Homo sapiens: one gene and its partner. The protein of the gene in region 2 purifies or fractionates together with the protein of the main gene of each other region. This does not show direct contact. Each region holds a gene or a part of one and is shown on either strand. Other genes may lie near its edges. The genes, in order: TTLL12 and EEF1AKMT1.

What was found.
Region 1: the proteins of EEF1AKMT1 (region 2) and TTLL12 purify together in Homo sapiens (affinity purification with mass spectrometry; 2 studies listed by BioGRID and IntAct, with this or other methods). This does not show direct contact.

Annotation. Positions count from the first base shown.
Region 1 is NC_000022.11:43,184,839-43,188,955, forward strand, and holds the start of TTLL12 (tubulin--tyrosine ligase-like protein 12), read right to left. Parts: upstream 2,297-4,117; 5' UTR 2,232-2,296; coding exon 2,055-2,231; intron 1-2,054. UniProt on the Homo sapiens protein: Negatively regulates post-translational modifications of tubulin, including detyrosination of the C-terminus and polyglutamylation of glutamate residues. Also, indirectly promotes histone H4 trimethylation at 'Lys-20' (H4K20me3).
Region 2 is NC_000013.11:20,772,052-20,775,651, forward strand, and holds the start of EEF1AKMT1 (EEF1A lysine methyltransferase 1), read right to left. Parts: upstream 1,911-3,600; 5' UTR 1,870-1,910; exon of another isoform or gene 1,806-1,869; intron 1-1,805. UniProt on the Homo sapiens protein: Protein N-lysine methyltransferase that selectively catalyzes the trimethylation of EEF1A at 'Lys-79'.

The DNA of each region.
Region 1 (4,117 bases), on a different chromosome or scaffold from region 2:
AACCCCTTCATGGCAGGACTGGAAGAGCTCCCCAGGAGATAAGGGGAGTGGTTTTGCAACTGGGAAGCTTGTGCAGACAGAAGAGTAGACATTTTAAAAACATCTCTTCGGCCGGCCGTGGCGGCTCACGTCTGTAATCCCAACACTTCGGGAGGCCAAAGCGGGCGGATCACGAGGTCAGGAATTCGAGATCAGCCTGACCAACATGGTGAAGCCCCATCTCTACTAAAAATACAAAAATTAGCTGGGTGTGGTGGCGCACGTCTGTAATCCCAGCTACTCGGGAGGCTGAGGCAGGAGAATCATTTGAACCCGGGAGGCAGAGCTTGCAGTGAGCCGAGATCATGCCACTGCACTCCAGCCTGTGTGACAGAGCAAGACTCCGTCTCAATTAAAAAAAGAAAAAAATTATATATATATATATATATATATATATATATATATATATATATATATATATATGTATGTATCTTCAAGTTTCCCCATCCTTTCCAGGGCAGCCGGCCTAAGGTGAGGCAGGAGGGCTGATGGCCAGGGGTGTAAGGGCCCACAGCGCTGGCAGGTGCTGCTGCTGCTGGCGGCCTCCTCCACACCTGGGCCAGTAGCAGCAGGAGGCTTCACTCAGGAAGAGCTGCAAGTTTGTGAATGGTAAAGCAGTGATTCAGCTCTGTCCTTAACGGCTGGGGAAGGGTCACGGAAAAACACTGGCTGCCCCTTAGTAGGGCAACAGCAGGCAAGGCGGCCTGGGCAGGGGACGTGGCACGGTGGCGACCACCCTCTGTGTGCCAGGCATATTTCTCATGCCACCTCCCATCCTTCCAATACTGTGGGAGCCAGATGGTGTCTCACCATCCCCTTCCCAGATGGAGAACAGGTCTCAGACGGGCGAGTGACCGCCCGAGGGAGGGCGTGCTGCCGTGGAGGCTGGCTGGGCAGGAGCTGGTCATTCCCACTGTGCTCCTTCCACGCAGCCCATGGGAACCTTTTTGTCCTCATGAACAAACCAAGGTCCCTTCCACCCAGCACAGGCCTGGGACCAGAGTGGTCCTCGGAAAGCATATGGCAGAAGTGAGGGGCAGAGGAAACTCTCTGTTACACTGTAGCATAAGGAGGTGCCACTCACTGCACGTTTCCAGCAGGAAGGTTCCTAGTCCAATCAGGATTACACAGAGAAAAACTGGCTCAGAGACCGTAGAGTCTGGCCAGCAGCCAGGCTCAGGGACTCCTAGTTCCCGGCCCGGGTCCCTGTTCTTGGCTCTGGGGTTTCCACTTCATCACCTGCGCCACTAGGCTCATCTCCGTCCGGGAGACAGCACCTGGAGGAGATGTCGGGTCCCAGCTAAAGAAAACACCCCCCCCCCCGCCAGCCCGGGAAGGTGCTGTGGCCTCAGCCTCTGGGCACGCAATAAAAATCCAGGGCTCATCCCCAGCCAGGACAGTGGGGAACGCTTTGGAGTGGAGGAGGCAGGTGAGCCGGATGGGCCGTCCTCACAAAAAGGGAGAGAACCTAGAGGCTTCTCAATCTTTTCCATTTTTCTTTAGATTTCTCCTCCACCTCTCACAGCCTGTTTTCTTTAACCTGCAAGATGAGGGGACCCCGAGGCTCAAATCAAATGAAAAAACACCGAATTCTGTGAACCCAACAGTTACAGCTACACAAATTCACGGGGTTCCCGTTGTCCCTGTGAGGCAGCGGCTGAAAGAATCCCTCTGAAGGGACTCTCGGAGCCGCAGTGTTCTCATCTGTGAAGTGGGGGTGATGAGTTTCACTCCTCGCAGGGCTGTGTCAGGCTCGGGTGTGTGGAGGACCTAAAGTTCCCAACGCAGCCCTCAGCCGGTCTCGGGCCCGGGCAGATCAGGGCCGCAGGTACCCCGGTCTCCTGCTGTCACTCTTCGGCCCCCAACTCCACGCCGCTCCAGAGCTGCCCAGGACGCGCTCTGGGTGGCTCACCGCGGCTCCCGCCGCCCGGGAGCGCTCTTCCCTGTCCCGCGCCGCGGGCTCCCGCCGCGCTCCCACCCCGGCCGCCGCACGTGCCCGCCGCCCTTCCCCGCACCTCGTGCTCCAGCTTGTGCAGGAGGCGGCCCCAGTAACGTTCGGGGACCCCCGAAGCGCGCAGCGCCGGGCCGTGCAGCGCCGCGAACTCGGCCAAGGCCTGCGCGCCCTCCTCCGGCGTCTGGCCCGGGCTGCTACGCTCCGCAGGCCGGCGCTCGGGACCCCGCTCGGCCTCCATGGCGCCAGCACCCGCGCCGACTCCAGCGCCGCCACCGCCGCCGCCGCCCGCCGTCCGTCGGCCCTGCCCTCCCGCCTCCGCCCCCTGCCCCGCCCCGCCCTCCTCCCAGCGCCCCCCCCCCCGCCCCGCCCTCCTCCCAGCCCCCCCCCGCCCCGCCCTCCTCCCAGCCCCCCCCCGCCCCGCCCTCCTCCCAGCCCCCCCCGCCTCCGCCCCCCGCCCCGCCCGCCTCCCAGCACCCCCGCCCCGTCCTCCTCCCAGCCCCCCGCCCACCGCCCCGTCCTCCCCCCAGCCCCCCGCCCCTGCCGCGCCCCCTGCCCCCGCCCCCTGCCCCCCTCCCCACCGCCCCGTCCTCCTCCCGGCCCCCCCGACCCCTCCCCTGCCCCGCCCTCTTCTCGCCCCCTCACCCCGTCCCGCCCCGCCCCCAGTCCGCCTCCAGCCCGGTTTGCCGCGGCCCCCGGGCAGGCCCTGCGCATCGGCGGGGTGCGTGCGAGAGCGCGCGAGCTTGCCAGGAGGGGGCGCGCGTCTGCGACCGCGCCTGTGGTTTGGCTGCCGCCGTGTGCGCACGCGCACCTGATGGTGGCTGAGCTTTTCTCGCTCAGCGCGCGGCGACCCCGGGGAATGCCGGGAGGGCGGGGTGCCTACGTATAGGGCGCTGTCAGGACCGGAAAAGGCCCCACCGACGGCCCGGAAGGTGTCCTGGGGCCCGAACCCGGTGAGGCGGCGCTTCTGTGCCTGCACCGGGCACACAGAGCTCGCAGGCCCCCTGCCTTGGGAGCTCTCGATTCTTGTGAGCGTTTCACCAGATTTGGATGCTGCAAAATCGTGGCCCTTCTCAATTACTTATATTTGGATTCGGAATGTCAGTTGATCCAATTAAGACCAAGTGTACCCGTCAGAGGAATTTACTCCTACATGTCGGGATGTTTCGAAGTGCAGTTGAGCTGGGCGTGGTGGCCGCGTCTGTAGTCCCAGTTACTCGGGAGGCTGAGGCGGGAGGATAGCTTGAGCCCAAGAATTCAAGTCCAGCCTCGGCAACATAGCCAGACTCCCTCTTTAAAAGAAAACAGTTCAGTTATAGAATTTCAAAAGACATTCTCTTTTGAACTCTCATTGAGTTTTATTGCTCCATAGGGATACATTTCAATGTCTTCCTTTTTGCAATTTTGTAAGAATTGTAATTTGCTAAAAAACAAAGGCTGAAAATTTTTTGGAGCTTCAGATGCTATTTTGATAACATTTTTGAACTGAGTTTGAATAAAATGCACCAATTCACGGACTTGTTCAATTCCATTGTAGGAAGCAGGTGGGTCTGCAAAGGCAAAAATTTCCAAACTCAAGTTGGTGAGGGCTGCAGAGAAAAACATTTTATTTATTTATTTATTTTGGGATGGAGTTTTGCTCTTGTTGCCCAGGCTGGAGTGCAATGGTGCAGTCTCGGTTCACTGCAACCTCTGCCTCCCGGGTTCAAGTGATTCTCCTGCCTCAGCCTCCCAAGTAGCTGGGGCTACAGGTGTGTGCCACCACGCCTGGCTAATTTTTTGTATTCAGTAGAGACAGGGTTTCACCATGGCCAGAGGAAAACCCTGATTCCTCGGTTTTTGTTGTGGAAGCCAAGGCTGAGATTGTACCATTGCACTCCAACCTGGTCAACATAGCGAGACTCCATCTCAAAATAAATAATATAGTAAAACAGCATCACAATGCTAGGATGGGGCATGCTGGCTCACACCTGTAATTCCAGCACTTTGGGAGGCCAAGACAGGAGGATCACTTGAAATAAGGAGTTTGAGACCAGGCTGGGCAACAAAGCAAGACCTCGACCCTACAAAAAGAAATTTTTAATTAGCCAGGTATAGTGGTACACACCTAGTGCACCTCCCGCTTCC
Region 2 (3,600 bases):
TTTTTTAAATCACTATTTTATCATATCTTTATTGTTTTTAAAATTTCTAAGGGGGTTTATGAGATTTTTCAAATCCAAAAGAGCTGGGAAGTACTGTGTTATATTATTATTATTTTTAAATTTTTTCTGGCTACTCTGGGCACACTGTCTATGGCTGGCCCTGCCCCACAAGTGGCAGTAAAAAAAATTTTTTTCTTTAGATTTTAAAACTTGTACCTATGGATTATATTGAAATTATATTATTATTAAGCTGACCTTGGACCTTATGTGGCTCAGACTCTAAATCAGCAGTTCTCACAGAATGAGGAGCCCTTTTGTCGCTAAGGGGAACATCTGGCAATGCCTAGAGACATTTTTGGTTGCCGTAAATGGGAAGGAGGGTGCTACTGGCATCAGGTGGGTAGAGGCTGCTGAACTTAAAATTCACAGGACAGCCCTCCACATTAAAGAAGTATCCCGCCCTACAAGCTGCAGTTGAGAAATTCTAGGTTAGGCAGACACATGGCGAACACCAACGGTAAGGTGGAGGCCCTCTATAGAGAAGCACCATTCACGCCATGGGATCAGAGTGGAGGGCCTGAGTGGGGAGAGGAGTGAAAGAGCAGGTGGAGCTTCAACTCGGCCTCAGGAAAAGGTAAGGATGAAGAGTGAAGACTTCAGAAAGATGGAACAGCATGAGCAAAGGGGCGGACACGTTAGCTTGCAGCATAAGCAGGGATTAGCTGGCTTCTCAGGGGCTGTGGTTAGTCTCTTTTTGGATAAAATTACTCAATTTCCATGTTATCAAATTTACTTAGGGCAAAACCACCATACTGTAATTTCAACATTCATTCTTGTGTGAAATTAGGTTAAGATAGTGTGATTCAGAGCAAAGAGCATTAACCTAGGAGCCATCCCAGACTCCAGTAAACCGCAGGAGAGCAAGGCTCCCTCTATGAATGGGTAAGGCCTAGATATTCTCCAAATACTTTTTATAAATTGCTGGATGATTCTCCCCTTAATCCAATTTACGTCCAGAAAAGGGCCAAAGGTTTTCATTCTGTTTTCATCTTTGAGTCCCCCTGCCTCAAACAGTTCCTTCCTTCTTGCTTTCCAGAATTCTATTTATCCTGTTTTTAAATTAACTTTAAAAAGGAGGTAATGCTTACAATGAAATGCAGGTCGTACGTGTGCAGTGCGACGTTGTGATGTACGCCCCATGTAACCACAACCCCTATAAGGAAGGCCTTCCTGTCTGACATGTGGCTCCCTCCCGGTAGGGACCCGCTATCGTCCCAGCACTTCTTCTGCACCTCCGAAGCTACTGCCCGTTTCGCAGTAAAGCCGCCCGCGTCCTAGTCTACTCCACCTCGCAGCACCCGCATCCTGCAAGGGACCTGCCTCAGAAGCCCCAGCGACAGGCGCCGCGGGTGCCCGCCCTCCAGGAGCGGACAGTCAGGCCTGGGCATTTCGCAAACTCCATCAGCGAACTTCTGAGGGCAAAGATGAAAAGGACAGCAGGCCGAGTCCTGTTTCTACTCGGAGGGAAGGGAGGCCTCCACGCGCTGCCGTAGCCTGGGGGTTAATTTCCCCGTCAGCACCAAGGCTGCCTAAGGCCCGGGCGCCAACGTGCGCGGCACAGGACGCGGCGCCTTCCGGCGACCGGGACGCGAGGCCCAACAGCGCCTAACACAGCAACCAGGATCCACTCTCAGGCCGGCGCCAGCTCCTTCCCTCAGGAATCCGCCAGCCACTGCTAATTAAACTCTTCCACCACTACCACCCTGGAAAAAAGGTGAGAAACAAACACACAAAAGGCACCTAACCCAGTCCAAAACGCCTCGGCGGCGCGCAGCCAACCCTACAGCTGCGCCCGAACCCGCCACTCACCAGCCGCGCGTGCGCAGTCGCCCAGACTCGCCGTGTGCAGTGGGAGTGGCTAGCCAGTCTCGCTAGCGCAGGCGCAGGCCCTCCCGCCCAGGCCCTTGCGCAAGGCAGGCCATCTCCCCGCAGCGTCTCAATCCCGCGTTTACAACACTGAGGGCCGTCTCCAGCCTGGAGTCGTTCCTTCGCTTGTCTCATCAGCCGCCCCCAAGAATGGTAGCAAAAAAACAACAACAACAAAAAAAATGAAGGCCCTGGCAGGGCGCGGTGGCTCACGCCTGTAATCCCAACACTTTGGGAGGCCGAGGCGGGCGGATCACCTGAGGTCAGGAGTTCGAGACCAGCCTTACCAACATGGTGAAACCTCGTCTCTACTAAAAAATACAAAAATTAGCTGGCCGTGGTCGCGTGCGCCTGTAATCCCAGCTACCCAGGAGGCTGAGGCAGGAGACTCGCTGGAACCCGGGAGGCAGAGGCTACAATGAGCCGAGATCGCACCACAGCTACTCCAGCCTGGGCGACAGAGCAAGGCAACATCTAAAAAAAAAAAAATTAAGATCCTAATTAAAGTTAAACCCACTATTTTGCACTGAGTCACGTAGATTTTCAAAGTCAAGGCTTCATTGGTCGATTGTCTGCTCAGTCTTTTTAAATCAAATCGTTGACTTTAAATGTTGACATCAAATTGAGGCTTTGGTAAAATTGACAGGATTGGCGGTAGCGGGGGGGAACCTTTAAAACTTGTTAGTCTTTCAGAGTCTTCAGTTTTGAATGAGTTGGTCAATATATGTATTTAGACATCAAGCGCCGTAAGTATGTATGATTTTTGTCAACAACACCTTAATTATCTTGCACATACAGGCACTGATTATTGAAAGGTTCCCTTACGTTTTAGCAGCTACCAAATTATAAGTGATACAAAGTATTTGTTTCCAATTCCCCAAGAAATCAATCTGTATTATGCTTCTACCCTCTCTTTCCTCCATTTTCTTTACCAATTTCATGATCTTGCTAAATTTTATATATTCTGCTGAGCAATGTGAAAATCCTTTCTGGTATAAGGTAAGGATATAAACTGTTCAGCTGGCAAATGATGCTATTCAGTAAGTAGTTAATGAAACAGGTTTATAACATTGGGTGTACTATAATTTCTATTTTAAGAACTGTTTCCAGTTTATAATAACCCATGCTACATTTTGACTTTGTTTTGAATTGATGACAAGTCTATTAACCAAATATTTCAAGATCAGGTGTATTCTGGAAAAGGAACAGGAAGAAAATATATTTAAAAAACTAAAAGAAATTTAACACAAACTGAGAAACAATAACCAACTTTTATGAGTGCATTTTTTATGGAGGTGGTGTTCAGTAAATAAGACTGCCCTAGCTTATAACTACTTTAACAGAAGTTTACATTCAGTCAAATTGAGTCTGAAACAGTAGATCATTTTCTTTCAAAGCTGACATTGCTTTAATAGCATGTAAGACATGTTATCTTCATGTATTTTACTATATACTATTTTTACTATGAAAGTGACCACAGATGTCAGAGTTTTTTGTACCTTCACTAGACCTGATTGCTCAGACAGCATGAGAGTAATACAGTAAGATTCATATTTTCCTGGTGAAACCTATGCACTGTAATTTAATGGTTTTTGCAAATCATAAACATGTAAAATATCAAAGGAGTACTTATTCTCATTAAAGGGGAAATTACTTGTCCAGTTAAATTGGATA